Linked DNA regions of Homo sapiens. The protein of the gene in region 1 interacts with the protein of each later gene in a pairwise test. Each region holds a gene or a part of one and is shown on either strand. Other genes may lie near its edges. The genes, in order: CLEC2D, FAM3C, NKG7, SEC22A, ADIPOQ and SYT15B.

Region 1 (5,419 bases):
AAGATGATTAGTGTGGAAATTCCAAGATAAGTGTGGAAATCTCAATTTATCAGGGTTTACCTTTTGTCCCCTTTAAGCTAACAATGAAATTATAAAAGGATATAAAAGGGATAAGCCTGACAGTTCATATCCACTTCTGTGTATGATAATATAACTGGAGAGACATCAAACTCATGCTGAGAACAACTAGAAGAGTTAGAATTGAAGAAAAAGGATTTCATTAAGATATTAGAGAGTGTTCAAGGCAACTGGAGGCAGAACGAAGATTCTGGAAAGGGGCCACAGAGAAGTGAGTCAGCATTCCAGGAGCCACCCTTCTCTTAGGGGCATCTTGGCAGTGGGTCAGATGCTGAGATTCTGGGGAGAGGGCTGTGGATACCAGGCATTTTTTTGGGGGAGAGAAAAATCTCTTCCTAAAGCACTTGAAGGACCAAAACCCCCAGAGAGGAGAGAGGGCCAAAGAAATGAGAAAAATTTTTCTCTCAAGCAATTTTCAAATTATTAAATTTCACAGGAAAGGAGGTTAGGAAGAACTATGTGAAAAACAGACTTGAACTTTTGGCAATCACATGTTGTTCAGGAGACAAAACCAAATTCAACTTCCAAGAAAGAGAAGCAGCTTTGATAAAAAGCAGGTTCTCAGATGGAATTACTAGAAGGCTTTATCATAGGTCCTAGGACAAACTAGAAATGATGAAATAGTAAAGAAAAAGATATATAAAATCTTACAGAAACTGGAACTCAGTCCTAATGCAACTTCATTTCTATTTGATAAAGGCAATAGCTGTCCAATCTGGAACTTATTTCTTACAGGTAAGGGGGGCTACTGTATAGAATTCAAAAGCAGGGAAAATATGTTGTCAGAGTTAAGATAGAGATTGTATTTGGGGTAATGAGCGTTGCAGGACATGAGTAGGGCACATAGCGTGTTGGTATTGTTTTACGTGGTTTTAAGATATACTTCATCTAGGCACTTGTTACATGTTATATTTTTAATGAATGTGTTTAGTTGTATGCTTATGATTTGTGCACATTACTATAAATTATATTTTAGTAAAAGGTGCCCTTACTGGCATTTATATACAAGAAATCAACACATCTGACAAGAAGCTCTTGCTGCTAAAGAGCCTCTGTGCTCCTGGATCATGCCAGAGGGAGCACAGAAGCTGCACACCGTTCAAGCCCATTTTTGAAAAGTTGTTGTAGCAGCCATAGCAGCAAATTCCCAAAATATCTTGAAGAAATTGAAAACAAGATATTTTTTGAATGAGCGTAAACTCTTGGGAATGAATTTTAATTTGAGATTAAAATTGCTGTTGTCTTTACTTACCTAACATTCATTTCCTCTGAGAGCCAACTCCTTCCTTTCAATAAATTCTTATTTTCTATCATAATATTGCTTTGTACCGCACAAAATACAATTATAATTTTTAATAGTCAAAGAAATTTTAAGTTATCAAACATTAGTTTCTTTCGTAACCAAAATACTGTTAGAGAAGTAGCTTCAACTTTTTAAAATTCTTACAAACACCAGTTTATTCTGTTGTGATGAGCTGATTTTTGAAACAATTTATGCTTCATTTGTTCCTCTAGCTATATTTAACTTAAAGGCTTGACATTTTGAGTTACTGGGGCGGTTACACACTTACACGTTTTAGTCGTTGGGCTTTTTTTTTGTTTTGTTTTGAATCATTCTTGGGGTTGAAAACGTAGAGACTGTGGTTTAGATCACTCATAGAAACTGGAGGCAAAATGCATGACAGTAACAATGTGGAGAAAGACATTACACCATCTGAATTGCCTGCAAACCCAGGTAAGAAGCTGGGCTCTACAGAGTAAGTGTGAGGACTGGAATGGGAAGGTAGTGGTAGTGATGGGCTCACACAGGAAAGGTGCTGATCTAGTAAAAAGTTTTCAAGGATAAGAGATGGAATGTGGGAGTCCATAAATTGGCTTATAATTTGTGTAAAACATGCATATATTTATATTCCCAGTTCTAACAACTAAGGAGAGGGAACAATGAGAGAAAGATGTAAGACAATGAGATAAGGTTAAGTTTAGGATTGAAAATAACAGTTAATTTCACTAAAAAAAAATCTATACAAACTCTAAAGTGTTACTCAGATACAAGATACCATCATTATTACATAGGTAGAAAACCTATCATGGAAGCTCTTAAGAGAGAAAAGGTAGAAAATAGTATGTAAAGGACATTTACAAATCAAAAAAGTAACAAAGGTTGAGTAGAAACTTAGTAGGGCATTCTAATGGAATTATGTTACATTGGATGCACTGGAAATATATATATATATAGCTTTATATGATGCTTTAGTAAGTGAAAAAAATGACTTTTGCCACAGTTAGGGAATATCAAGGTTTTATAACTTAGGACTTAAAAGTTTGGAGTTTTCTCCTCCCAACTTAAAAGGTAATCAATTTGGAGAAAAGGTAATTCAGAGGCAGAAAAAGATGAACTCTAAATGTTGTTAAATGACTTCATTTATTTCTTCATTCATTGGGTATTTTGAGCATTTTATACCAAATGCTTTAAACTGTTTGTCGGATAGTTCCAACATCTCTGTCATGTCCTCCTTGGCTTGTGTTTTCTTTCCCCATGGAAGTTGACATTTTCGTGGTTCTTCATATACTGTGTAATTTTGGATTGTAATTTGAACATTTTGAACAAATATTTAGTTAGACTGGATCTTATTTAAATTTTGGAGTATATTGATACTATTGTTTTAGCAAGCAATCACCCTGGTGAGATGAAGACAATCTGTGGGATCTGGTTCCAATGTCAGTTCCATTCTGAAAGCCTTTGTAGTGCTATTCAGACATGTGCATCAACCAGGGGTGAAATTGGGAACTGTGCAATGCTCTACTCATTAGTTCAGGTCTTAGCATCTTTAGTGTGCCAATTAGAACCATATCTAGGCATGCATAAGTTGAGGGGCAGGTGAATCCAGGAGTTTATGAATAATGTTCATGGGTCTCTTTCTAAAGTTTCTTCCTCTTCACCATCTGACCCGTACTTTCAGGTTCCCAGGGGCTTCTCCTTTCCATCCTCCAGCTAGAAATGCGGGCCTCCTTTTATTCTGATGAACCATATACTTCTGCAATTATAGCTGCATCTTTAAGCTCATGTGGCAGACGGACAGTGAGAAAGAAGAAAAAAAAAGCAAGAGGTTTGGCCCCACTCTCATGGAGCTACAGCTCAACTGAATGGAAAGGATTGACTTTAGATTTCTTTTCTTTTTTTGAGGTGGAGTCTCACTCTGTCCCCCAGGCTGGAGTGCAGTGGCGCGATCTCGGCTCACTGCAAGCCCCGCCTCCTGGGTTCACGCCATTCTGCCTCAGCCTCCTGAGTAGCTGGGACTACAGGCGCCCGCCACCACGCCCGGCTACTTTTTTGTATTTTTAGTAGAGACGGGGTTTCACCGTGTTAGCCAGGATGGTCTCGATCTCCTGACTTTGTGATCCGCCCGCCTCGGCCTCCCAAACTGCTGGGATTACAGGCGTGAGCCACCGCGCCCGGCCGAGGATTAACCTTTCTCAAGGTTTTGGCTATTGCATGTTGCTGTAGTTTCCCCTACCATCATCAGATTGCCTGAGGTTTGAGGCACATGAGAATGTAGACAAGAGGGGGAGAAAAAATAAACGTGGTATTTTCACACTCTATTTGAGATAGGAGTTTGCTTTTCTGTTCCTCAGACCATACCTCTAGTGCTTCTCCTGGAGCCCTCTCTTTATGCTGACAGAGGCTCAATTCCATGTTTCTGGCTGTATTAAGTTCGGGGCAGTGATACTAGAGGAGGGAAATTTAAATTCACCACTGGTTTGATGGCTCTTTAAATTTGGATATTCTTGTAAGATCTGCTGCTAGTATATCCTTTTTCCTTTTGCTCTTTTTTGTTTTGTTTAAAGACCATATTTTTAGAGCCATTTTGGGATCACAGCAAAATTGTGAGAAAGGTAGTTTTTTTTTTCATTTTCTCCTTGTTGCCACACATATATAGACTCTGTCTTAGTCTGTTTTGTGCTGCTATTACAGAATACCCAAGACTGGGTAATTTATAATGAACAAAATCTATTGGCTCATAGTTCTGGAGGCTGGAAAGTTCAAGACTGAGAAACACATCTTGCTCCATCATCCCATGGCAAAATTTGGAAGGGCAAGAGAGCACATGCATAAGAAAGAGAGAGAGCAAGAGGCACCAAACTTGCTTTTATAACAAATCCACTTTCGTGATAGTAAACCCACTCCCATTATAAGGACATTATGACCTGATTACCTCTTAAAGGACCTGCCTCTCAACACTATTGCATTGGGGATTAAGTATCTAACACATGAACTTTGGAGACACATTCAAACCATAGCAGTCTCTAACATCAACATTCTTCACCAGCAGTACATTTATTACAATTAATAACCTACATTGGCATATTGTAGCACTCAAAATTCATAATCTGATGGACTTCCCTTTGTCAGTGACCTGACCTTTCTCCCTGGCTGCCCTTAATATTTTTTCTTCCATTTCGACCTTGGAGTATGTGTCTTGGGGTTGATCTACTCATGAAGTATCTTATTGGGGTTCTCTGGATTTCCTGAATTTGAATATTGGCCTGTCTTGCTAGGTTGGGGAAGTTCTCCTGGATTATATCCTGAAGTGTGTTTTCCAACTTGGTTCCATCCTCCCTGTCTCTTTCAGGTACTCCAGTCAGTGGTAGGTTCGGTCTTTTTACATAGTCCCATAGTTCTTGGAAGTTTTGTTCATTTCTTTTCATTCTTTTTTCTCTAATCTTGTCTGTCTGCCTTATTTCAGCAAGAGAGTCTTCAAGCTCTGATATTTTCTCTTCTGCTTGGTCAATTCAGCTATTGATACTTGTGTTTGCAACATGATGTTCTCGTGCTGTGTTTTTCAGCTCCATCAGGTCATTTATGTTCCTCTCTGAACTGGTTATTCTGGTTAACAGCTCCTGTAATCTTTTATCATGCTTCTTAGCTTCTTTGCATTGGGTTAGAACATAATGCTTTAGCTCAGCGAAATTCGTTATTACCAACTTTCTGAAGCCTACTTCTGTCAGTTTATCCATCTCAGCTTCAGCCTTGTTCTGTGCCCTCACAGGAGAACTGTTGCGATCATTTGGAGGAGAAGAGGCACTCTGGCTTTTGGAATTTTCACCGTTTTTTCATTGTTTTTTCCTCATCTTCGTGGATTTATCCACCTTTGATCTTTGAGACTGATGACCTTTGAATGGGGTTTTTGTGGAGTCTTTTTTGTAGATGTTGTTGTTGTTACTTTCTGTTTGTTTGTTTATCTTCTAACAGTCAGCCTTTCTGAGGCAAGTCTGCTGCAGTTTGCTGGGGATCCACTCCAGACCCTGTTCACGTGGGTATCACCAGTGGAGGCTGCAGAAC
Region 2 (4,947 bases), on another chromosome or scaffold:
GACAAGATAAACTATCAGTTTTAGAACAGCAGTCCTATTATTCATCACAGTTCTACCCTCTGACTTGCAGCTAATTTTTTAGGTAGATGAATATTTGAGGGAAGAAATAGAATTTTCTTTCTTGTAAAGCAATCCACAGATATTTTCCCCTTCCATATTTGGAAGTCCCACAAGGAGTGGGAAGAAGTTACCAGCACGCAGAGGCAAGGGACTGGCACCCCAAAGAAGAACGCTGCCCGGAAGAATGGGTTTTTTTCCTCCAGTTTGAAGGGAGGCCAACACTGGTTTATCTTTTGATTCTTTAATTTGGGAGATTGATCAGTATGAGGATCTCCCCTGCACCTCCCCATTCCATTTATATATTCCCTAGAAGCCAACAGCTATTAGGCTTCCTGAAATTCATGTTAAGAGTTCTCAGATAATTTAGCTTTTCCAACATATCTTCAGCTTGTAATAAGATGGTATGTAGCCGGACGTGGTGGCTCACGCCTGTAATCCCAGCACTTCGGGAGGCCGAGGCAGGCAGATCACGACGTCAGGAGATGGAGACCATCCTGGCTAACACAGCGAAACCCCGTCTCTACTAAAAATACAAAAATTAGCCGGGCATGGTGGCATGCACCTTTAGTTCCAGCTACTCCTTGGGAGGCCGAAGCAGGAGAATCCCTTGAACCGGGGAGGCAGAAGTTGCGGTGAGCCGAGATCTTGCCACTGCACTCCAGCCTGGGCGACAGAGCCAGACTCCGTCTCAAAAAAACAAAAGATGCCGTGTATTATTTTGTTATTAAATAATGTTAGGACAACATTGCATAGCTGTCAAAGCTGTATAAACTTAAAATGGGACCATCAATTTTAGATTCTAAAGGCATAAATTGGTCCTGCCAAAATTTATTGATAGAAAGAGTCTTACAAAGCTGTTGTTGAAATCAGTCATGTGACCAGGAGCTCTGGTATTCCTTACTTCTCTTGTCACAGGTAGATTAATTACCGCTAGCAGCATTCTTCTAGTTAGGAAATTGTTGCAGTTTATTGCCACTTTTGCATTTAAATGGAAGTAGTTTGTTAGCTGCCTTGTTATATCTTTTTGAATTGAAAATGCTATTATTATGAAATATAATCAGTTATCGAAAATCTTTGGCATCTTTGCTGTGGAAAGAAACTGAGTACATTTGAAGTAACCCAGTTTTGGAGTAGAATTAGACTTCAGAGCTATAAGGAACCCAGACATTGTAAAGAGTTCAAGATGTCAAGTGGTTTTTAGAATCTGACCTATGTATCTGGCATCAACAGTTTATAGTCATTGAAGTGGTTTATTTTGAAGTCCTTGTGGATTTTGATTTGGTAGATCAAATGAGTAATGACTGTAATATTTGCTACAATTAGTTTGGCTTTTAGTGATCACCTAACATATTCCTTCTCCCAGTTTATAGCAAATGATATACCTAAAATAGCCTTTAAATCTGTGTGTATATGTATTTTTAGATTTTCTAAAAATTACAGATATCTTTGAGAATCGGAGAAAAGCTGTGTATCCTCTTTCTAGTAAAGTACCCATACAAACATTGTTATGCTTTTTTTCGTTTCGTTTTTGTTTTTTTGTTTTGTTTTTGAGACAGGGTCTTGCTGTGTCAACCAGGCTAGAGTGCAGTGGTGTGATCTCAGCTCACCGCAACCTCCACCTCCTGGCCTCAAAGCAGTTCTCCTGCCTCAACTTCCTGAGTAGCTAGGACTACAGGCATGTGCCACCAAGCTCGGCTAATTTTTAAATTTTTTTGTTGAGATGAGGTCTCACTATATTGCCCAGGCTGGTTTCAAGCTCCTGGGCTCAAGCCATCCCCCAGCCCTGACCTCCCAAGGTGCTGGGATTACAGATGTGAGTCACTGTGCTCAGCCCATACAATTTTACATACACTTAAGGAGTCCACACACCTCCCATGCCTCCTTAAGCTTATGCATGGACCCCAGAATAAGGTTTTCAGGATCCCAATTATTCAAATCTGAGAGATCTCTGAATTTCTTACTTCGTAAGTCATGCTTTACTTTGCTATGATTTTTTTCACTTAGCCCCAGGAATATCAATACGAAAGACACAGGATAAATCAGGAATGGGAAATTGTAAGTTGATAGTGGGATTATGTTAAGGGACAAATTTAACAGTTTTTAAACTCTTTATGAGATTTGTCTGTCTTTTGGATTACTTTACATTGGAAATTATTGCTTTACAGATACTTCATGTTTTATAATACTACTTTCAGAGATTATCGTGATGCTTATTCAGTCATTTTTTAAAACCCTAAACCCTTTCTTTTTCTTCAGATGTGGCACCATTTATTGAGTTTCTGAAGGCCATACAAGATGGAACAATAGTTTTAATGGGAACATACGATGATGGAGCAACCAAGTATGTAAACTTTACAGAACTTTTTGGAACTATAATTTGTAATTATAAAAGCAATACATTTTCATTAAAAAAAAATCTGTAACATAGAGCAAAGTAATCAAACTACCAGGTAAACACAACTAACAATTTTTGTTTTTACTTTGCCTCCTTCCTGGTTTTATATGTAAATGTTTATCACACATATATTGTCATGAAATTAGAATCACATCATATGTAACATTTTTTATACTTTTATGTTTTGTTTTTTAACATTCTGAAATTGTTTTTCCTAGCATTAATATTCTTCAATAGCATTTTTATGGTTCATCAGCAGTTATGGGCTCACCTTTAAAGTTTCCCTATTATTATGTCATTAGGGTAAATTTCAAGAAATGGAGTTAATTGTCAAAGATACAGGTGTGCTATATTTTAAATAATTTTAATATATAGTAGTTTTATAACTTTTTCTTAAAATAGTATATGTTGTAAAAATTTGGAAAATTATAGAAAAGCGCAAAGAGACCAAGTTCCAGTCCATCTCACTACCCAGTGTAAACATTGATGATATTTTAGTTTCTATTCCAGATGACTTAAGACACATTTTTTGGCATTAAATATTTAGAATGCTAGTATTTATAGCATATCTCTTCACTTACGTGGTGAATATTTCCCCTTATTATTAAATATTCTTTATAAAAAATTGTTTATGCCTGCCTAGTCTGGTTTTTAAAATGTCATGATTTATAACCTGTTTAATGGGTTGCCTATTGCTGGACCCAGACTAGTTCCAATTTGCATACTTAGCACAATAGACTATCTTAGAAATGTTTGAACAGTCCATGTCTATGTCTTTAAGATAGACTTCTTTTTTTTAAAGTGGAAATGATTAATTAAAGGATGTGCATGTTTTTAAAAATGGATTTTAAAAATTTTTTTACCAATTTTATATTTTTCTCAGAAGTTCCATGGCACCAATTGTTAATTTTTTTAAGTTTCAATTTTAAGAGTTTGAAAAGGTATCTTATTTTAATATGCCTTTATTATTGAGATTGGATTTTTTTCACAAGTGGTTTTTTTTTCTTTTGCCTTTTTATGTAAATTGTCTTTTGACCATTCGAGTTGGCCTATCTTGACTTGTAAGACCCCTTCACGTTTTAAGGATATTAACCATTTCTAATGTAAAAAGAAATGTATTTATTGTACATTATTTGCTTTTAATTTTGTTAGTGTAGGGTGCTTTTTGAATTTTAGAATTTTAGACTAATGCCTATATAGTCTATGTATTTTTCTATCACTCTCCTTGTATACTTGAGAAGTATTTTTCCACCTCCAGGTTAGATATTTAGTAGATTTTCTCTTCCAGTGATTTCACTGTTGTCATGTATTTTTAAAAACCCATTTGTAATTTCCCCATGACACACAATGCCTATGTTCTTATGTAGATTTGGCTTTATCTCTGGAATTTCTGTTCTGTTCCATTCACTTGACCTGTTTATCTCTGTTCCAAAAAGACACTATTTCAATTATTTTAAAATTGTTTTATAAAAGTAATTGTACTTCATGCCTCTCTGGTTGAGATTAAATCCCCTTTAATGTTCTTCTTTCTAGAAAAAAATAATTTTTTCTCTGACTTTTCTTCAGATGACTTATCAAGGATAAAAAACATCCTTTATAGATTTTAATTGACAGAGCTTTAATACTACAAGATTTATAGATTTTATAGATTTTAATTGACAGAGCCTTAATACTACAAGATTTATACAGAAATTTGTATTTTTATGTATTGATTTTTATAAATGTATTATTTTATAGCTACATTATCACAGATTTACATGAAAACAGTGATACTTTATAAATGGTTGTAAGCTGAAGTAATTTCATTGACATTGTGCGTTTTATCTGGTTCAACTAAGAATATATTAAATCCATAAATTGAAGGTTAACATAAAACTCGCCTATTCAAGCATTTTCATCTACCTAAATAGAATGAAACAGGATGTAATTAGGCTCTCATCAAAAAACAGGTAACTTGCTATTTGCTTTTGCTGAGAGAATAGGCTATTACGTGTAAAATTTGAAGTTTTAACATTAAAAAGAAAAGGCCCCACTTTTCTGACTTGACAAACATGACCTCCGTTTTTCACCAGATTATTTTGTTATACCTGATGGGAATCAAAATTGCTCCCCTTAACCTGCTAATATGCTAATAATAAATTATAGCCACAACTAAGAACTAGGGGAGGAATGATGTTTACTCTTCAACTGCTATTTTTTGGTGCCCATTAAATGCACCAAAAGCAGCTTTGGAAGAGAGTTCAACCTCTAGGGCAAAAGGAAAAATCTAAACTTTAATTTCTTTACGTTTGGTCACTTGGTCAATATATGATTCATCTGTGAATTTAAATGAATTGAGTTGTATTAGTTTGGGGCACACGAATTTATATTTCAAATATTTCCTTTTCCTAAATACCAGTAAAAGAAATTGTAAGCATCATATCTTTTATACTGAAATGGACAACATCCTTAAGAAAGGCAATCTACATCTAATATATATATAACCCTTTTAT
Region 3 (4,280 bases), on another chromosome or scaffold:
GGGGATAGGGATGGGTTGAATTTGTGGTTGGAACTGGGCTTGATACTGAGTTTGGGGATGGAGTTGGGTTTGGGGTTAAGGATGGCTTTGGGTTTGGGAGGGGGTCAGGGTCACAGATAGATAGGCTGTGTGCTCTGACCTGCTACTCACTGCACACCATGGCAGGTTTTCCGGAGACCTGGCCTGCTCATGGCCTCTGCCACCTCTGGGAGCCTGTGCTCATAAATGTGTTCTCAGAGTGGTGCAGATCTGAGTGAAGGATGGGGGCTGCCGATCTGAGTCTCTCCAATAAAGGAGAGGAACCAGTCTTCCAGGTCATTTCCCATTCTCCACATTTGCCAGCTGTCCTGGGACTGCTGGACCAGTTCATCTCCAAGACAGAGGTCCTCTTCCAGACTACTCCCTATGTATTAGTCTATTCTCACACTGCTATAAATAACTGCCTGGCCGGGCGTGGTGGCTCACACCTGTAATCCCAACACTTTGGGAGGCCAAGGTGGGCAGATCACCTGAGGTCAGGAGTTAAAGACCAGCCTGTCCAACATGGTGAAAACCCGAAAATCTACTAAACCTGAAATCTACTAAAAATACAAAAATTAGCTGGGTGTGGTGGCGGGCACCTGTAATCCCAGCTACTTGGGAGGCTGAAGCAGGAGAACTGCTTGAACCTGGGAGGTGGAGATTGCAGTGAGCCGAGATTTTGCCACTGCCCTCCAGCCTGAGTGACAAGAGTGAGACTCTGTCTCAAACAACAACAACAACAACAACAAATGCCTGAGACTGGGTAATTTATAAAGGAAAGAGGTTTATTTGATTCACAGTTCAGCATGGCTGGGGAGGCCTCAGGAAACTTACAATCATGGTGGAAGGTGAAGGGGAAGCAAGCCACTGTCTTCACAGAGTGGCAGGAAGAAGGCCAAGCGAAGGCAGGAAGAGCCCCTTAAAAAAACACCATATCTTGTGAAAACTCACTCACTATCACAAGAACAGCATGGGGGAAGCCGGCCCCATGATTCAATTACCTCCACCTGGTCTCTACCTAGACACGTGAGGATTATGGGGACACAATTCAAGGTGCGATTTGGGTAGGGACACAAACCCTAACCATATCACCGTTTCACAGAGGTCAAGTTTTCCTGGGCCTTCTACCTGGGCTGTGGTACCGTCACCTTATACCTGCTCGTAGATGAGGTGTTGCCAGGACCTGATGGTGTGGATGGAAGAGGCTAGCGTTTGGGGGGCTGGAGAACCCTAAACCAAAATCCTTATGTCCCCCAACACCCCCTAGGCCCCCCGATCCTGGTGATAAAGGCCACCAGGCTGGAGCCCCCACCCAAGCAGGGATGCCACTGAACTCATTAATCAGATGAGGATGTGGGTATGTCTGACTCTCTGCAAACCTTTCAGAATTGTGATTCTCTGCTGTTTGCCTGCCCTTGGCATATGCTCCAAACTGGGGCCCAGGATTCTGAGCTCCTGCCCGCCTCTTCCTCCCTCAGGACCTGGAGTTCAGGCCCCCAGCTCCTTCCTCCTTAAGCCCCAGGAGTTCTAACTCCCAAGTCCCCTCCTTCAGTAGAGACCCTAGACTTGGGGACTTCCTCTCCCAGAATGGAAGACTGCATAACCCACAGGAAAGCATGACACATCCCCAGCTGTCCCCTCCAGCCACATCTGCCCTCCCCCTTAATGTACACCCTAGCCTGATTGGCTTCCTCCCACCTCAGGGCCCCCAAGCCTCTCTCTCTCACCTCTTCCAGGAAGCCCCGACTTGGTGTTGAAGGTTCCATGGGTGGGAGTTGTAGAATCTGTGACAGAGGCAAGTACTAAACCACCGCCCAAACCACTGATGATCTGACACCCTCAGTGCCCTCCCCCATCACACACTAAGCGGGGAACTGGACCCCAGGGAGGGGAGGGAGGACGTTGCCTGTGCAATCCAGGAAGGGAGGGTATGTGAAAAGCTACCGGGAACTGTGTGAAACCAAACCAGCCTCATGTGACAAAGCGCAGGACCCCTCACTGCCCCAACTGCTTGCTGTTCTCTCTTTCTTGGGCTCTAAGGACCCAGGAGTCTGGGTGCACAGCCTCCTTCTCTCTGAGATTCAAGAGTCTGATCAGCAGCCTCTTCCTCCTCCAGGACCCAGAAGCCCTGAGCTTATCCCCATGGAGCTCTGCCGGTCCCTGGCCCTGCTGGGGGGCTCCCTGGGCCTGATGTTCTGCCTGATTGCTTTGAGCACCGATTTCTGGTTTGAGGCTGTGGGTCCCACCCACTCAGCTCACTCGGGCCTCTGGCCAACAGGGCATGGGGACATCATATCAGGTAAGGGGAATGGGTGTCCTACAGAGGGGTTGCCAGCGGGGATGGGTGCTCAGTGGTCTTCTCCCGATCAGGCTACATCCACGTGACGCAGACCTTCAGCATTATGGCTGTTCTGTGGGCCCTGGTGTCCGTGAGCTTCCTGGTCCTGTCCTGCTTCCCCTCACTGTTCCCCCCAGGCCACGGCCCGCTTGTCTCAACCACCGCAGCCTTTGCTGCAGGTAAGGACTCTGGACTGGACTGGGGCATCGCGAGCCAGCGAATTCCTGCCGAGGAGCTGAGCCATCTCTCTTGTCCTTGTCCCCAGCCATCTCCATGGTGGTGGCCATGGCGGTGTACACCAGCGAGCGGTGGGACCAGCCTCCACACCCCCAGATCCAGACCTTCTTCTCCTGGTCCTTCTACCTGGGCTGGGTCTCAGCTATCCTCTTGCTCTGTACAGGTGACTATCCTGCCCACTGCCCTGGGGAGCTTTGGGAGGGTCCAGTTGGGGTCCCTGAGGACAGAGGGCAGGGGCAAGTGCTTAAACTCTTTCTGGCTCCCCAGGTGCCCTGAGCCTGGGTGCTCACTGTGGCGGTCCCCGTCCTGGCTATGAAACCTTGTGAGCAGAAGGCAAGAGCGGCAAGATGAGTTTTGAGCGTTGTATTCCAAAGGCCTCATCTGGAGCCTCGGGAAAGTCTGGTCCCACATCTGCCCGCCCTTCCAGCCCTTCCCCAGCCCCTCCTCTTGTTTCTTCATTCATTCAACAAAATTTGGCTGGAATCTGGTTATTTTGAGATTAATTCTGCCAAGACATAAGCCAACTGTCTGCCAGCTCCATGGTAGGAGCTGGGCACCAAGGGAAGGTGAGGGCCCACCAGGCCGACCAGCCTGCAGGGCGCTCCTGCCCAGTACGAGTGCCCGGCCCGTGTGGACACAGGCTCCAACCCGTGTCTATGTCTCCCCTTCTCCAGCACTTTTCTTCCTCCCTGTGTCTTTCTCCCTTTAGCTGGCTCTCTTTCCTTCTCTCTCCCTCTCTGATTTTGTCCCCCTTGCCAGAACTCAGCCCTTCCTTGCACTCAGTCAGTTCTCTTTGCACATTTCCCCATGCTGGGGACACTGGCACGGGTCAGACCCAGGCCCTGCCCAGCAGGGGCTCAGTCTGTGGGGTGGTGGGGAGGAGGCACTTACAGACCAGAAGCAGTTAATACAGGCCAGACAGCAGTCCCAGTGCAGGGAGAATGCCGGAAAAAGACTGACCATATTGTGGAGGGATGGAGACGACTTTTCTGGAGAGAGAACATTTAGGAGCTTCTTAAGGGCCAGGGAAAGGTAATATCCAGGCAGAGGGGCCCAAAGATGAACGTGCAGAAAAGTCAGGAGTCTTGTGGGGATGAAGATCGGTAATTTAGGGTCAGGATATAGAATGTGGGGGGCGGGGGATGGAAAATGAAGAGGGAGAGGCAGGTGGGGGCTGTGGCCTCTAATGTCATGCTGGACTTTCTCTTGAACATGATGGGGAGTTGGGAGAAAAATTGTGGGCAGGGGAGGGACAGTGTCAGCTCTGGGTGCCAGAAAGACCCCCCTGTAGACATGGAGGGGAGGCCAGAAGGTGAGGGAGGAACTTGGCAATGCAATAGGTGGGACATGATGAGGCCTGACCTGGGACCAGGAAAGGAGGGAATGAGCCAGACAGATTCAGGGGCAGGAGGAGCAGGACTTAGGGACCCAAGGCTTTTCAGGGTGAAGGGCAAGAAGAAGGTGAGGACAGTGCCCAAGGGTCTGGCTCGATGAACTGGATGGGATGGCAGGGCCATCCCTAATATGGTGGAAGACACTAAGCTCAGTTGGAATATGGTTGACTATTAAGGCCCTGAGGGGCAGCCAGGAGCAGGTGAGAACTTGAGTCAGGCTCAGGGGAGAGACCTTGGGTTGGAGATGGAGTTTTGGATGGAGCATTAAGGAGCACTGAAACTTTGGCCGT
Region 4 (4,947 bases), on another chromosome or scaffold:
ATGGGCCTTAGACAATAAGCAAATTGTCAAGCCCTATCCCACAGTCAGTGGTTCAGAATTTTGAGGGCAGAGCTCAGAAATCTGCATTTTTAACTAAACTTTCAACTTCTTATGCAAGCTAAAGTTTGAGAGCCACTGTGTATTTTATGAAAGGTTGAGTGACTGTTGACCTGAGTTCCTTCAGACTCAGGCCTGTGAAGTCCTTTCATCTGTTTTTGTAAAGCAAGAAGAGAATCCAATAAAATAGGCCATTAAGATTTACTTTCTGGTAAAAAGATTGAGAACAACATTAAAACCAATATTCCTTTAGCTTTAGGATTTATTTTAAATAATTTTTTTCTGATTATAAAAGTAGTATATGTCTACTGTGAATATTGAGAACATTTAGGAAATTATAAAATAATAATAACCAATAATACCATTTCTTAGAGGTGAGCATATTCTTAATTTGGCATCTTTTTCTGCATCCGTTTTTCAATCCCTTTTTCCTTCTCTTTATCTTCGTCTCTTTATCCTTATGTTTGTGTAAAACAACATTTGCAATTTTTATCCTACTTTTTTCTCCTTAACATGTAAGCATTTTACCACATTATTAAACTTTCTCCACAAACATAACTTTTAGTTGCTGCATTATATTCTGTTATATGAATATACTATAATTTACTTAACCATCACCATTTTATAGGATATTTAGATTGCTTTCAGTTATTTGAGTGGAAGAATGTCTTTCTGTTTAAAATTTTGCCTGGATTTCTGATTATTTTTCTCAAGACAGGTATATATTTAAATTTATTGAGGTTAAAAGGTATGCCTTCAGACTCTTGTTGAAATTGCCAAATCATTTTGAGAACTGTTTGTACCAGTTTTTACTTCCATCTGTACTTATGAGAATGCCAGACAGAAGTATTATTTTTTAAAAAGCTAATGTGGCTGGGTGTGGTGGCTCATGCCTGTAATCCCAGCACTGTGGCAGGCGCCTATAGTCCCAGCCACATCCTATGCTGTGGCATGGGAACCCAGGCTGAGGCATGAGAATTGCTTGAACCCTGGATGGGGGATGTTGCAGTCAGCCAAGATGGCGCCACTGCACTCCAGCCTGGGTGACAGAGCAAGATGCTGTCTCAAAAAAAAAAACAAAAAACAAAAAACAAAAGCTATATGTTAAGTGAAGCATAGTATGTTGTTTTAATTAGTTTTTTGTTTTTTTTTTCCTCCTGAGACGGAGTCTCACTCTGTCGCCCAGGCTGGAGCTCAGTGACGCGATTTCGGCTCACTGCAACCTCTGCCTCCCGGGTTCAAGCAATTCTCCTGCCTCGGCCTCCTGAGTAGCTGGGATTACAGGTGTGCACCACCACGCCTGGCTAATTTTTGTATTTTTAGTAGAGAAGGGGTTTCATCATGTTGGCCAGGCTGGTCTCAAACTCCTGATCTTGTGATCCACCCTCCTCAGCCACCCAAAGTGCTGGGATTACAGGTGTGAGCCACCACACCTGGCCATTTTAATTACTATTCTTATATTACTAGTAAGTTGAACATTTTTACATATGCTTATCAAGTTTGGCTTTAATTTTTATGTAACCCAAATTGTTCATTTTGTTTTAGGTCTTCTCTGTTGGTTGAAATGTCTATGATTTTATCTGCCTCAGTCATTCGTGTCAGAGATGGACTGCCACTTTCTGCTTCTACTGATTATGAACAAAGCACAGGAATGCAGGAGTGCAGAAAGTATTTTAAAATGCTTTCGAGGAAACTTGCTCAACTTCCTGATAGATGTACACTGAAAACTGGACATTATAACATTAAGTAAGACTTCAGTTTGCTTCATTTGACTCATTTGCCCAGTAGTTGTCATTTTAATGAAGTTTAAGTGGTTGCAATAGAAAGGAGTGATTAGGAAAACCTGTTCAAGTCGAGCATCATATTGTTCTGAACTTATACTAAATAGTCATCATGTCAGCAGCAGCCTTTTTGTAGTTTCTTTGTATCTGGCTCTGGGAAATTTTATAGTTGTGCAGATCATAGATATCCCTCTTTTAAGTTGATCACTAAATATTTATTTGCATTCTTACATACCTAGGGTTGTAGTAAGCAAACTATAATTGGAAATAAAAATTTTTTACCTGATATCTGCCCTCAAAGAACTGAAGCAACTTACGTCTAGTGGGAGGGGGTAGCACTTATCACTGAGTCACATACAAATCAAGTAAAACTGGGCAATGGGATAGAGAGTGACTATTTATTGTGGTCAAGACACTCTCTGAGAGGGTGACATTTGAGCAGAGACCTAAAAGATGAGAGAGGAGGTAATTATATGAAGGATGCTGTGGATGAAGAGCAAGGCAGAGGTAGCAGCCAGTGGAGAAGCCCTTTTTTACATGCCAAGAGACAGAAAGAAAACCAGTGATCCTGAAGAATTATGGACAATTAATAGAGTTGCAGAAAGTGAGGCCAGAAAGGTAGGAATGGGGCAAGTTATGTAGTGAGTTTGGAGTCTATTAGTCTGTTTAGTCTAATGCAGTAGGAAGCCATTGGGTAGTTTTAAGCTATAGAGTTACATGATTTCATTTGGCTTAGAGTAGATCATTCTGCCTGCACTGTGAAGAATAAAGGAGGAAGTGGAAGCAGAGAGGTCAGATGGAAGACTCAGAGAAGTTCAGGTGGAGGTGCTGATTGTAACGAGCTAGGGTAGTAATGAATAGAAGTAGTTAGATTGGGGCTATATTTTGGGATTAATACCAGCAAATCTTCCTACTGGATTGAAATAGGATGTGAAGGTAAAAGAAGAATAATCACCTGTAGTTTTTTGGCCTGAGGAACTGGATGAATAATGTAGCTGAAATGAGCAAGAAAGGAGAGGATAAGTGCGTCTCCTTGGTAAAAAGTAAGAGTTCTGTTTGGACATGTTAAATCTGAGATGCCCATTAGACATCCAAGGGGCACTGCTAGGTAAGCAGCTGGATATATGAGTCTGAAGCTTAGTGAAGAGGACAAGTATAGACATTTAGATTTGGAAGTCAGCTTACAGTTTGTGATTAAAACCATGGGAATGGATGAGACCACCTTGGAAAGCTTAGACGTGAAACAATTAGAGAACAATTAATGTCTGATATCAAGCTGGATATTGATTATGCATACAGAAGGAAATAAGGTAAAAACACAGTCCATATAGGATATAATAAGCAGAGGGCTTCGTTGTTGAGATGAGACATGAGCCATGTCCTGAAGAATTAATAAGAGTTGGCTAAGGCAGGGAGGAGGGCATTCCAGGTGTACGGAGGAGAGGCAGAATAAGCAAAGAATGTGACTTAGCATGGTAGGTGTATTAACATGCTTATCCTGGGTCAGTGGATGGTGATTTATGGATAGTTGTGAGACATGCGTGATAATCATTGTGGGGCCAGATCCTGGATCGCCCTGAAAGTTCAGATTGAAGGACGTGACTTTGATGTAATATGTTATAGGAAGCTGTGCTGCAGGTTCAAGGGAAGTGACTTGATAAAAACAATCCTGAGACAGTGGAACTTAGGGTGAGTGGACAGTCCAAGAGGAGAGAGATAAGGCAGAGAGGCCAACTTATTAGGGCCTGAAGTAAGAAAATAAACGTGCAAATGAAAATTAGAACACCAAAAGAACTAGAATGATAATGAGAAATAGTTTGATTGGGGATCACTTTGAAGTTGGATCACTTCAAAAGAAGTGACCAAGCTGGATAGGATGGAATACCAGAGATGAAAAGAAGGAAGGGGCAAAGATGACTGAAGCCTTGGAATTGGACAGAATGTTGGTGTCATTGCCAGAAATGAGATCTTTGGAACAGACTGTTTATGAGGTGTGAGGCAGAAGAGAAAGATAATGAAGCTCCATTTTGATCATTTTTTTAAGACACTGGGGCTTGCTCTGTTACCTAGGCTGGAATGCAGTGGCATGATGACAGCTCACTGAGCCTCAACCTCTTGGACTCAAGTGATCCTCCCACTTCAGCCTCTTGAGTAGCTGGGACTACAGGTGCACACCACCACACCCAGCTAATTTTTTTATTTTTAGTAGGGATGAGGTCTCACCATGTTGCCTAGGTTGACCTCAAACACCTGGGCTCAAGTGATCCTCCTGCTTGGCCTCCCAAAGTACTGGGATTACAGACATGAGCCACTGCACCTGGCCCACTTTAATTATTTAACTTGAGGTTTTAGGCCAAGCACAGTGGCTCACACCTGTAATCTCAGCACTTTGAGAGGCCGAGGCAGGCAGATCACTTGAGCCCAGGAGTTTGAGATCAGCATGGGCAACATGGGGAGACCCTGTCTCTACAAAAAACTAAAAAATTAGCCAGGCGTGACATAGTCCCAGCTACTGTGGCGACATACGTGGGAGGATCGCTTGAGCCTAGGAGGTTGAGGCTGCAGTGAGCCATGATCTCACCCCTGCATTCCAGGGTGACAGAGCAAGACCCTGTCTCAAAAAATATATATAAATAAAATAAATAAATTGAGGTTTTGACAAGGTAGTTCAGTGGAGATGGGATAGAGATTTTGGAATCATTCACGTAGATGTGGTTGATATTGTGAGGGGAGAAGTGCCTACTGGGTTTAGAGAGAGGGCCCAGGTTAGAACCTTGGAGAATGTCCACAATTTCTTAGATCACCTGGATAATGGTAAGATGTTATATTTAATTGGGGTTTCTGAGGGTTTAATTAGAAAATATTGTGATTATGGTGATTAAAATATATGTAAAATGATGTCTCAACCTACTTCTATTTTTTTAGAGGAAAAACTTGAAATATTTCAATATTTTATTTAATAGGCTCTGTTAGTGTCCTGGGTCATTATTCTGAGTTTTATTTGTGAATGTATAGTGGTATAAACAAATATCAAAGTTTTAGGAGATTGGCTTGAATGTATATTAATTCTGGTAGGTGTGCTGGACTTAAACTTTTGCAATTTTTTTTC
Region 5 (5,690 bases), on another chromosome or scaffold:
TTCAAACGATTCTCCTCCCTCAGACCCCCGAGTAGCTGGGATTGCAGGTGCCTGCCACCACGCCCGGCTAACTTTTTTGTATTTTTAGTGGAGACGGGGTTTCACCATCTTCGTCAGGCTGGTCTCAGACTCCTGACCTCAAGTGATCTGCCCGCCTCAGCCTCCCAAAATGCTGGGATTACAGGCATGAGCTACTGTGCCCGGCCAAAGAAAATACTTTTTATGCCAGCCCTGAAACTACCCTGAAGCACATACATCAACCTTGAGGCCTCACACTCCATCAAGAGGGGTGAAGGGCATGAGGAATTAGAAAGCATAGGGATTTTTAGTTAGACAGATCTGGTTCAAATCCTAGACTTGTGCCTTGAACAAATTATTTACCCTCATTGAACTCTAGATTCATTATTTGTAAAATGAAAGACAATAATAGTTATCTCCAAAGGAAAGTTGAATATGATCATTCATTTATTCATTAATTCAACATTTATTATTGCCTACTTTGTGCCAGGTTCTATTCTAGGAACTAAGGGATACAACTTTGAATAGGCAAAATCTCTGCTCTCCTGAAGTTTACTTTTTTTTTTTTTTTTGAGACAGAGTTTCACTCTTGTCACCCAGGCTAGAGCGCAATGGTGCTCTTGGCTCACTGCAACCTCCACCTCCTGGGTTCAAGTGATTCTCTTGTCTCAGCCTCCCAAGTAGCTGGGACTACAGGTATGTGCCACCACGCCCGGCTATTTCTGCATTTTTAGTAGAGATGGGGTTTCACCATGTTGGCCAGACTGGTCTCAAACTCCTGATCTCAGGTGATATGCCTGTCTTGGCCTTCCAAAGTACTGGGATTACAGGCCTGAGCCACTGCACCTGACCTGAAGTTTATGTTCTATTAAATAGCAACAGACAGTAACATAAACCAAAAATAAATAGGAAAACACCATAACAAAAATCAAACAGTGATATAATTGAGAGTTGCTTCTATTTCTTTTTGTTGTCTTCTTGGTTCAATCAGCCTGCTAAACTATATGGAACCTCATTTTCATGGGCCACTTATTTAAGCCGGGGGACCTTGGAAAGTCTCTCATGTCTCTCATCTCAACGGCCTAATGTGACTTCTCTTGAAATATTTGGACATTAGCAGGAAGCTGAGGCTTTACATCAGATCTTTACTTTAATGGTGGACTTGACTTTACTGGTAGATTTTTAGGCTCTGTGTGGACTGTGGAGATGATATCTGGGGGGCAGGCAGACACTTGCCCTGCCTCTGTCTGAGAAAATTCTGTTTTGGATGTCTTGTTGAAGTTGGTGCTGGCATCCTAAGCCCTTGCTGGGGTCGTAATTTAATTCATCAGAATGTGTGGCTTGCAAGAACCGGCTCAGATCCTGCCCTTCAAAAACAAAACATGAGCGTGCCAAGAAAGTCCAAGGTGTTGAATGTTGCCACTTCAAGCCTAAACTTTCTAGGAACACCTAAGTGGGTGGCAGCTTCCAGTTCTCCAGGCTGCTTCTAGGCCAGAGCTGGGTTCCACAAGAGACAGAATAGGCATATATATGCTTAAGGAACTGGAAAAACAGGCTCTCTCTCTCTCACAAACACACACACACACATACCAAGGTAGCTGTCAAAATGTTATCCGAAATTTTGGAACCAAAAAATCTTGAAAGATGGTATTCCAATATCACATTTTATGTAAGTTTTCTATTATATTAGATTCAAATTACGATTCGAGGCCACAAGCTTTAAGAATTCAGGGCCTTTTTAACTTGCCAAGCCCCACACCACTCCAGGAACTTCCCCACACCCCAGTTCTCAGAATTCATGTGCAAGGTCTTTCCTAAATCCAGGGTCCAGGTCAGAGAGTGGAGGATGTGCTCTATTTCTTACCTGATTGCAGACCCCTCTGACAGTGCTCCCTTCTGAAGCACTCACTGTCTGAACGTACACAGTCTCAGACTTAATCATGCACAGTGAGCAAGACTGTGGTGTGATAATTGGCGTCCCTGACTTATTAGGGCAAATCTATGGGAGGGGGAGACCTCCTGGACCACTGAGCAATTAATTCATTTACATTAGGAAGTTTCTCCGTCAGATGCAGGAAAAAAATCTTGTTTTCCTGCTGTGGTTTTGACTTTTGCCCCATCTTCTGTTGCTGTTGTAGGAGGCAAAATAAGGGTCAAGGCCTGGAAACACAAGTGCTTTGACTGAAGCTCCACTTGGCTTCCGAAGCCCAAGCTGGGTTGTACCAGGTTCCCTAGGGTGCAGGCTGTGGGCAACTGCCAGGGACATGTGCCTGCCCACCGGCCTCTGGCCCTCACTGAGTTGGCCAATGGGAAATGACAATTGTGAGGTGGGGACTGCCTGCCCCCGTGAGTACCAGGCTGTTGAGGCTGGGCCATCTCCTCCTCACTTCCATTCTGACTGCAGTCTGTGGTTCTGATTCCATACCAGAGGGTAAGAGCAATTCTGTGAAGTTCCAGGCTGGGTGGGGGATGCATGCATAGCCTCTGGCTGGGATCACCCAGGCTCTCCCGTCCGTAGTAGTGTGGGAGTGGATACAGGTGGATACTCTGGTCAGAGCAGCACTGGTGGAGGCAGATATGCACTGGGCTTCTTCCTCCGTTCTCCCACAGCCCCAAGAGAGAAAGGGTTATTTCAGACATTCCTTCTAAGATGCATGGAACCATTCTGAATTTTGCCCAGTTCGCTCTGTAGCAGGATACCTATTGAGAAAAAGTTAGGGTCAGTAAGGTGGAAGGGTCTGTCCACAGATGAAGTCCAATTCGATTAAGGGGGATAAGGGAATACATTGCCTCTTAGCTTGACCAGGTAGGGCAAAGGAAGAAGCATATATGAAGGCAGCTTCAGAAAAGTCAAGCTGAGCACTGACTTCAGACTGGAATTAGGAATCCAGCTCTGCCACTTTATTCTACTCAGCAAATATTTACTGAGCAAATTCTATGGGCTAGACAGTGGATTGGGTTCACAAGATACAATGAGTGTGACATGGTTGTTGTCTATGGATTTGGGGATATATGTAGGTATAGGGATATCTTACAAGGTAATCAAGAGGTTCTAATGAGGCCAGCCATGGTGGCTCACACCTGTAATCCCAGCAATTTGGGAGACCGAGGCGGGTGGATCACCTGAGGTCAGGAGTTCCAGACTAGCCTGACCAACATGGTGAAACCCCGCCTCTACCAAAAATACAAAAATTAGTTGGGCGTGATGGCAGGTGCCTGTAATCCCAGCTTCTCGGGAGGCTGAGGCAGGAGAATTGTCTGAACCTGGGAGGCAGAGGTTGCAGTGAGCCGAGATTGTTGCCACTGCATTCCAGCCTGGGTGACAGAGCGAGACTTTGTGTCAAAAAAAAAAAAAAAAGAAAGAAAAGAAAAAGAGGCTCTAATGAGATAAAATGAGAAAAGCCTGGCATATAGTGGCAACTTATGAAAAATTGTAATTAAAAAAAAACATTTTCTGACAGAAGAAACTGGATCTACCTGGTTTTTCTGAAGCCTAATCCTGCTCGCCCCAGTGAGTGCTGTTTCTGAGGCATCCTGGTTGTTTTGAGCTGTGGATGCTGAAGGTTAGAGTGGGAGGGATTTTAGAGGTTAGGTCTGCCCCTCTTGTGTTAGAGGACATGGATCCCTGGTCTGGAGAGGTTCTGGTTTTTGGATCAAGCCTCACAAGGGGTGGCACCAACTCACTCCTAGGAACTCCGCTAGAAGGAAGGCCAGCTCTGCCTAATTCGGTTGGGGAGATGGGGGTCCCTTTATGCTAGCAGAATATGTCCGAAGGAGCATGATGGTGTCAGCTTTGTTCATGAAGGCCAGTGGTACACAGGGAGCCCGGCAGCTTCCTCAGCAGTCCCTGCTGCCACTCTTCCTTAAGTCTTGAGGAGTCTTTTTTTGGCACAATCTCAGCTCACTGCAACCTCCGCCTCCCAGGTTCAAGCGATTCTCCTGCCTCAGTCTCCCAAGTAGCTGAGACTACAGGCATGCGCCACCACGCCCAGCTAATTTTTATATTTTTAGTAGAGATGGGGTTCACCATATTGGCCAGGATGGTCTCGATCTCTTGACCTCATATTCCACCTGCCTCGGCCTCCCAAAGTGCTGGTATTACAGGTGTGAGCCACTGCGCCTGGCCGAGGAGTCTTAAGCTGAGATCACAGCATTGCACTCCAGCCTGGGCAAAAAAAGCAAAACTCCATCTCAAAAAAAAAAAAAAAAAAATAGACACAAGACTGGCTCCTTGTCTTTTTTGGGGACAGGGTCTCACTCTATCACCCAGGCTGGAGTGCAGTGGTGCAATCACAGCTCACTGCAGCCTCGATTTCCCAGGCTCAAGTGACCCTCCCATCTTAGCCTCCTGAGTAGCTGGGACTACAGGTGTGTGCAACCATGCCTGGCTAATTTTTAAAAATTTTTTGTAGAGATGAGGTCTCACTATATTGGCTGGGGGGCCTCAAACTCCTGGGCTCAGCAGTCCTCCCACCTCAGCCTCCCAAAAGGCTGGGATTATATGCTTGCTCTTTTTAAGGTGGCTGTAGGGACAAACTTTCCACCTACTCCTTGTCAAGCCAGTGGACCGGTGGTCCCAGACATACGGCTAAAGTCAAGAGGTGATGTCTTTTGGAGAGATACTTTCAATCAGGAATTTCAATCAGAAATTCAATCATGTGGAGAGAGACTTATCCTAAAAATGTGGTGGTGCGTGGGATGCTCTGTTTTATTAGTTCCTTGACAGTATGTATGTGTGTGAGTGTGTGTGTGCGCGCGCGCACACTCATTTGGATGGGTGTGTATGTGTGGGGGGGGGTGGTGCGTACGTATGTGGATGTGTGGATGTGGTGTGTGGGTGTGCGCGTGCATAGGTGGAGGTGTGTGTATGGGTGCGGGTATGTGTGTGTGTTGGGCATGGAGATATTGACAGCTCTCCCAGGGCTGAGTGAAGGCTTTCGGGCAAAGCTCCTGGGAGCTAGGCAAAGCTGAGTTGATTCCTGGTTATGCCATTTATTATTGGGTTGCACCGTGTGAAACTGCCAATATTCTACACTTTGACTTTTATTTATTTTTATTTTTATTTTTTTTGAGACAGAGTTTCACACTTGTCACCTAGGCTGGAGTGCAGTGGCGCGATCTCAGCTCACTGCAACCTCTGCCTCATGGATTCAAGTGATTCTCCTGCCTCAGCCTCCCAAGTAGCTGGAATTACAGGTGCCCGCTACCACGCCTGACTAATTTTTGTATTTTTGGTAGAGACGGGATTTCACCATGTTGTCCAGGCTGGTCTGAAACTCCTGACATCAGGTAATCCACCCACCTCAGCCTCCCAAAGTGCTGGGATTACAGGCATGAGCCACTGCGCCCGGCCCATTTTGACTTTTAAAAATGGGAGTTTGATATAATTCAATCCAGTGGTTGAATTAGCTAGCATCGTTCCCTCTCCAAGTCTCAGGTTCTCCTACACGTTAGAGTCAAAAGCAGGGCTATGGGAAGATTAAGTAAAATAAATTTTGAAAATGCCTTATGAAAATTACACTCCAAAGAACTCGCGCCAGTGTCAGTGTTCTCATGTTCCTCATCTCACATGATCACATTTCGCGGATTAGGAAGCTGAGTCTGAGAAGCTCCGTGTAGTGCTTTTTCGGAGGCACCGTGATGTGATGGAAGGCTCACTCGTTAGGAAGTCA
Region 6 (5,675 bases), on another chromosome or scaffold:
GGTGGGAGAGCCCAGTGCATACGCAGAGCCGTGGAAGTAGCTGCATCAGTCTGGGCACAAGCACTGCAGAGAGATGGGTGGTGGGGGGGATGAGAATGGGAGGGGAGCCTGGAAGACAACAGCTGGGAAGGGGAGTGGGTGCAGCATGGAATCTGAAGAGCTGAGAGGAGGCCCATGCAGAGCTCCAGATGAGAGGTGATGGAGGGCTGGGCAAGGTTTTTTGCCATGATAGAGATGGACAGAGGAGGAACAGCTGTCAGGACTTGGTGACACAGAGAAAGATGGGGACTTTGGAAAAGCACAGCATGGGGGTCGAGAGATGGCAGCTCTGGGCCTGGCACTCAGGAAGTGCCAGAAGGGATTCCCTTTTCAAAAAACATCCCACTACCCAACTCCACCCCCAGAACAGCCTGAGTACAGCTCGGGCGCAATCATGGAGGCAGCTGGTGTGGATGCCATGCCCCACTGGGGTGGTCAGGTGGGGGTGCATGGCAGCTGGGGGAAGGGGTCAAGATAGCTGACGGGTTCCATGTAGGGGTCCCCTGAGCCTTGCTAGCTGCCTGAGTCCAGTGTTGAGGCACACTGAACTCTAGACAGAGGAAGGGGAAATGTAAGCCACCCCTCCCAGGGTACTGCATGGACAACATGGTCCACACAATGGTCCTAGAGATATCAAGTCCTCATCCCCAACCCCGTGACTACATAGCAAAAGGGGCTTTGCAGGTGTGATTAAGTTAATGATCTTGAGATGGGGGTGGTGGTTATCCTGGATTATCTGATGAGCCTCTTATAGAGAAACGCCACACTCTGAGATGAATTCAGAAGTCCTTTATTAGCCGGCAACCGAGAGATGGCTAGTGCTCAAAATTCTCTCGGCCCTGAAGAAAGGGCTAGATTTTCTTTTATACTTTGGTTTAGAAAGGGGAGGAGGAGCCTAGCTGAAGCACTCTTACAGAAGCAAAACAGGCAAAAAGTTAAAAGACAAATGGTTACAGGAAAACAAACAGTTCCAGGTGCAGGGGTTTTAAATCCATCACAAGGCGATAGATGCGGGGGCTTTGGGTACCATCAACCGGACACAAATGTGGGGGCTTAGGGTACTATCAACTGGGCAAATTCCTGGGAACTGCGGATATAGCTTGCCACAGTATCTTATCCATTAATTGCATTCTTTGATGTGCTGGGAGTCAGCTTGCACAAGTTAAGTCCTTGAGGAAGGGGGGTGGGTAAGGGGCTGCAAGTGAAGGAGCCAAAATGGAGTGTGTCTGGCTCTCTCAGCTAAGGGACAGTCAATTCAGGTTAAAACAAGGTAGGGTATCACACTTACAAGAGGGAGGCAGAAAGAGTTGATGTGAAATGACCTGGAGTGGGAGAGGTTAGAAAAGGCTGTGCTGCCGGCTTTGAAGACAAAGGAAAGGGCCACTAGCTAGCAGCCTCTAGGAGCTGGAAACGCTGGGAAACAGCTCCCTTGCCTCCAGAAGGCACAGGCCCTGCCAACCCAGTTTAGATTCCCGACCCCCCGAACTGTGAGATAACATGCGTGTGGCTTAAACTACTCAATCTGTGGTACTTTGTTGCAGGGGCAACAACAAACATACAGACATCTAACTCAGACCCGAGGCCTTGGGTGGGACCCAGGCCCCATTTCCTGAGACACCTGCTCCCACAGCGACCTGGGGTAAGCAGAAGTGGGGGAGGATTCTCCAGACACCCCAGACTGTCTCCAAGTAGAGCGGAGATCTCGCCAGTTAAGCGCACAGCTGAGGACAGTTACTGGGTGAAGTGGCCTGGGTCTCCGCCTTCTCATGCCCCCACCGCCCAGACCCTAGAAGGGGAGTGGCTGCGGCCTCTGCACCCTGGCCCTGAGGGCTCCCAGACCCGGCCCAGTGGGGCACCCCAGTTCACCACCCTCCTCGCCTTAGGTGAGCCAAAGCCCAGGCAGGGTGGAGCCTCACGCACACTGACTGGCCCCTAGGACAGGCACAGGTGACGCGGGGGTGTGGGACCCAGGCTATGACTCTGGACATAACCTTCAAGGCTGTAAAACGAGAAGGTCCATCCCCCCAAAACACGCACTCCCCCACAACCACCCCCTCCCCCCCCCACACACACACTCCCCTGCACCACAGATACACACATTCCTTTCGCTCCCCACTCAGACGCCTCGAGGCCTCGGCGGGGGAACCATAGGGGCGCGACCAGGGCGCGCCGAGGGGTGACCAGAGAGGACACGCAGCGACCTTACTCCCGCCTTTCCCGCAAGGCGCGTTCGCCAGCCTGGACTAGTGGGCACGGGCCCTGCGTTCTAATAATCACCATAATAATAGGCGCTGGGTGTACAGAGGGGACCCAGGCGACGCTGGCCTCCATCCGATAACCACCGTAACAGGGGCTGGGCCGCGCCGCTCCTCCGCTCTAAGTGTTCTTTACATGCTTCTTAAGTTACCGGCAGGCCAGCCGCCCTTACGAGAGCCCCTCACGGACATTAACCCAATTGAGAAGACTGAACCCAGCATACGAACGTTAAGTTGTCCCAAATCGCAGGGCTGGCGAGTGAGGAGCCTGAATTGGAACCCAGGAGCTTCTGGAACCCGCTCCAGAATTGCGCTCTCGACCGGTTTGTCCGCTGAGAGCGAACGGGTGCGCGAGCGCCGCATCCCTGCCCAAGGCCATCAGGCAGGCAGCGCTGGGGCCCGGGACCCGCGCGGAGACTCCACCCCGGGATCCGGGAAGGCTCCCCCGAGCCGGGGTCGGAGCTGCGGCTGGAGGGGCCTCGGCTTGAGGAGGATCTGGGAGGGCGGGGGCTCAGTCCTGGCCACCAGGTGTGAGGGGTCGGGTGCGGAGCCCTGTGTCAGACGCGGCGGTGAAGGCTGTAGCCCTGCTCTCCGGGATGGGGGTGGTACTCTCACCGCACCCTGCCCCAAGCCGCAGGGAGCCCCTGGCGCCCCTGGCGCCCGGGACCCGCCCTGGCTGGAGCCCTGCGGTTTCCGGGAGCTCACGGTCGGCTCTGCGCCCCTCCACCGCCGGGCCTGGGCCTGGGCCAGGGACTGGCTGGGGCGGGACTGCGGCCTCGGGGCGCTGGGTCCCTGCCCCTGCCGTGCACTGCGCGGCTCCCCGCGCCGCAGCTGGGCACCAGCAGCACCACGGACCGCCCCTGTGCTCGCCCGACGGCGCCCCGCGGCGCTTTAAGAGACGGCCTGGCAGCCCAGCCCCAGCCGCCCAGACCGGCGAGACCAGCCTGCGGGAGCAGCCCCATGGCGGGTAAGCGAGCCTCGCCTCCCCAGCCCAGCCCCGGCCCCTCTGCGACCCTTCCAGCACTTGCCTCCGCCCCGCCGCCCCCGCTGGGGTGCAGCGCCTGCCCTGCCCGGCCTCGGCGCGCTCTTGGAGGGGCACTGGGATGGAGTAGACGCTGAGGCCCGCTCTTCGCGGTCAGTTGCGGCTTAGGAGGTGTGGGGGGTCCGGCCTTCTCACCACCCCACCCAGTGCAGATCCCTGAGACCTGAATGCCCCGCGGCCGCACGTCACCCTAAGGGAGGCACCTTTTTGGCCCGCCCCAGGTGGCCAGCGGTTGGAACCCAGCGTCTGAGCACCCCCGGGGCGAAGCCTCCTAGGTCCCGCAAATGCGGACGTGTGAGGGCCAGCAGCAATGGGGCCTTGCCCCCTCTTCCTCCCCACCTCGTCCACCGCGTCGCACCAACTCCCCTAAGCGCGTGCTCACCTTGATAGAGGGCTAGGGGAGGGAGCGGGTGTTAGAGAAGAGTCCAGCCTTGCAGCAGGTTCCAGGGCCCCAGAGGGTAGAGGTTTGATTGCAGACCAGGGGGAAGGTACCTTTCAGGGCTTTCCTTAACTGACTGCGTCCACACCCCAGCTCCCCTCCTGGCCTCAACAGGAGCCCAGGGGATATGGAGGTTCTGGTGAGGGCAGGTTTGATTTCTACTCAGAAGCGCAAGGAAATGGCTTCTTTAAGCCAGAATCCCAAGGGCAGGGCCAGCTGTTTTCCAAGGAAAACTAGAAGGTTCTGCCCAGGGCTCTCAGACCCTGGGGTAAACGGCTTCTCCTCTGAGAGCTGGCGGAACCTAGCCAGCAGCATCCCTCCCGGAACCCATCCCCAGCAGGCCTGCTCCTATCACTCCTGAGATCAAACCCAGAGGCAGGGTTGCTGCCCTAGTTCTGCCCCAGCAGGCCAGGGCTGTGAGGGAGAGTGGCCTTCCCAGGCAGGCATCATAGTACTGGTGGTCTCTGCCCCCAGAGCAGCTGGCCCTGGTGATTGGGGGCACCATCGGGGGGCTGCTGCTGCTGCTGTTGATCGGGGCAAGCTGCTGTCTGTGGAGAAGGTTCTGTGCCACCCTCACCTATGAGGAGCTGCCTGGGACACCAGCCATGGCCACCACAGCTGCCTCCAGTGGGCAGCGGGACAGGCCCTGCCAGCCGCATGCTAGGACCCAACTGAGCAGGTGAGGCAGGATGTGGGGCCAAGTGCGCCCCTGGAATTTCCCTCAGGGTGGGGTCGAAAAGGAAAGTTCTGTTTATGGGGGTGCCTCTTCTATGCTGCTTCGGTGCTGGGAGCTATCACAAAGAAACCCCAGAAACCTCACATCAGCTATTAGGCAGGTGTTATGAAACCCATGTTCCAGGTGAGGAATCTGAGGCTCAGTGCACATAAGCAACAGGTCCAGAGAACACAATTAGTAAGTGGCAGAACAGGAATCCAAACCCAGACTGGCTGACACTGTCAGGTGCTGTGTTCCTTCTCCAAATCCCACTGCTGTGTGTGTGTGTGTGTGTGTGTGTGCGTGTGTGTGTGTGTGTTGCCTGGTATGGGCCCAGAAAATGGTGCCCTGGCCTCCTCCTGGCTCCCGATGGCTTTTCTTCCTCCAGCCCCTGGTGCTCAACCGTCCTGGCTGAGCGCTCTGAGACCACACCATTCACTTGCCACCTACATGTTGTCTCCCTGACTCTGGACAGGCCACCAGCTGTGCCATTCGTGGTGCCCCCAACCCTTCAAGGCCGAGATTGGGTGCCCCTGCACAGTGGAGAGTGGGCCGATGCCCCATGGGACCCCTGCCCGGCATCAGAGCTGCTGCCTCACACCTCCAGCGGCGGCCTTGGTGAGTGTCCTTGCCAGGGCTGCCCAGAGGTCAGGGTCTGCTCGGGTGGCCCCATCTGCTTTCACCAGCTTGGCTCCGGAACACAACCTGAACCAGCCAGGGATGCCAGGGACCACCCAGGGACCACTCTTTCTGGGTGCTTTCATTTATGAAGTGCTTGCTGCACCCCATGAGGGTGAGATATGGCCTTGGGTGCTGATTTGGAGTGAGACCTCACCATGACTCTGAGGGGGAGGAATTATCACCCCATTTTACATAGTCTTAACTGAGGCTGTAAGCAACAGATTGGAATTGGAACCCAGGCACGCCATGTACAGAACTTGTGCTGGGTCCCACTCTAGGATGATGGGTTGGTTGACCAAGAGGACAGAATGGTAGGGGCTGCAAACACAGCTTTCTGCCACCTCTTTGCCCTGAAGATCTACCAAGAGACCATCACAGGAACCACCCAATAATCACCTTGGCCCTTCTAATTTGAAGAGGAAGAAGAAAGGCAATGTTTTATCGCTGAGTCATTCCCTAGACGCCATGGAAGGGGGCTAGGCCAGGTGATGGGCACTGTGTCCT

What was found.
Region 2: the proteins of CLEC2D (region 1) and FAM3C interact in binary tests that used the Homo sapiens proteins (3 or more experiments, as listed by UniProt).
Region 3: the proteins of CLEC2D (region 1) and NKG7 interact in binary tests that used the Homo sapiens proteins (3 or more experiments, as listed by UniProt).
Region 4: the proteins of CLEC2D (region 1) and SEC22A interact in binary tests that used the Homo sapiens proteins (3 or more experiments, as listed by UniProt).
Region 5: the proteins of CLEC2D (region 1) and ADIPOQ interact in binary tests that used the Homo sapiens proteins (3 or more experiments, as listed by UniProt).
Region 6: the proteins of CLEC2D (region 1) and SYT15B interact in a two-hybrid assay, tested with the Homo sapiens proteins (one large-scale study listed by BioGRID).

Annotation. Positions count from the first base shown.
Region 1 is NC_000012.12:9,667,983-9,673,401, forward strand, and holds the start of CLEC2D (C-type lectin domain family 2 member D), read left to right. Parts: upstream 1-1,730; 5' UTR 1,731-1,752; coding exon 1,753-1,813; intron 1,814-5,419. UniProt on the Homo sapiens protein: Receptor for KLRB1 that protects target cells against natural killer cell-mediated lysis. Inhibits osteoclast formation. Inhibits bone resorption. Modulates the release of interferon-gamma. Binds high molecular weight sulfated glycosaminoglycans.
Region 2 is NC_000007.14:121,357,497-121,362,443, reverse strand, and holds part of FAM3C (protein FAM3C precursor), read left to right. Parts: intron 1-2,316; coding exon 2,317-2,401; intron 2,402-4,947. UniProt on the Homo sapiens protein: May be involved in retinal laminar formation. Promotes epithelial to mesenchymal transition.
Region 3 is NC_000019.10:51,370,419-51,374,698, reverse strand, and holds NKG7 (protein NKG7), read left to right. Parts: upstream 1-2,044; 5' UTR 2,045-2,163; coding exon 2,164-2,320; exon of another isoform or gene 2,321-2,391; coding exon 2,392-2,538; coding exon of another isoform or gene 2,539-2,624; coding exon 2,625-2,759; intron 2,760-2,863; coding exon 2,864-2,922; 3' UTR 2,923-3,079; downstream 3,080-4,280.
Region 4 is NC_000003.12:123,207,597-123,212,543, forward strand, and holds part of SEC22A (vesicle-trafficking protein SEC22a), read left to right. Parts: intron 1-1,224; exon of another isoform or gene 1,225-1,341; intron 1,342-1,602; 5' UTR 1,603-1,621; coding exon 1,622-1,803; intron 1,804-4,947. UniProt on the Homo sapiens protein: May be involved in vesicle transport between the ER and the Golgi complex.
Region 5 is NC_000003.12:186,840,301-186,845,990, forward strand, and holds the start of ADIPOQ (adiponectin precursor), read left to right. Parts: upstream 1-2,409; 5' UTR 2,410-2,449; intron 2,450-5,256; exon of another isoform or gene 5,257-5,307; intron 5,308-5,690. UniProt on the Homo sapiens protein: Important adipokine involved in the control of fat metabolism and insulin sensitivity, with direct anti-diabetic, anti-atherogenic and anti-inflammatory activities.
Region 6 is NC_000010.11:47,760,220-47,765,894, reverse strand, and holds the start of SYT15B (synaptotagmin-15), read left to right. Parts: upstream 1-2,302; 5' UTR 2,303-2,890; coding exon of another isoform or gene 2,891-3,254; coding exon 3,255-3,261; intron 3,262-4,249; coding exon 4,250-4,454; intron 4,455-4,965; coding exon 4,966-5,108; intron 5,109-5,675.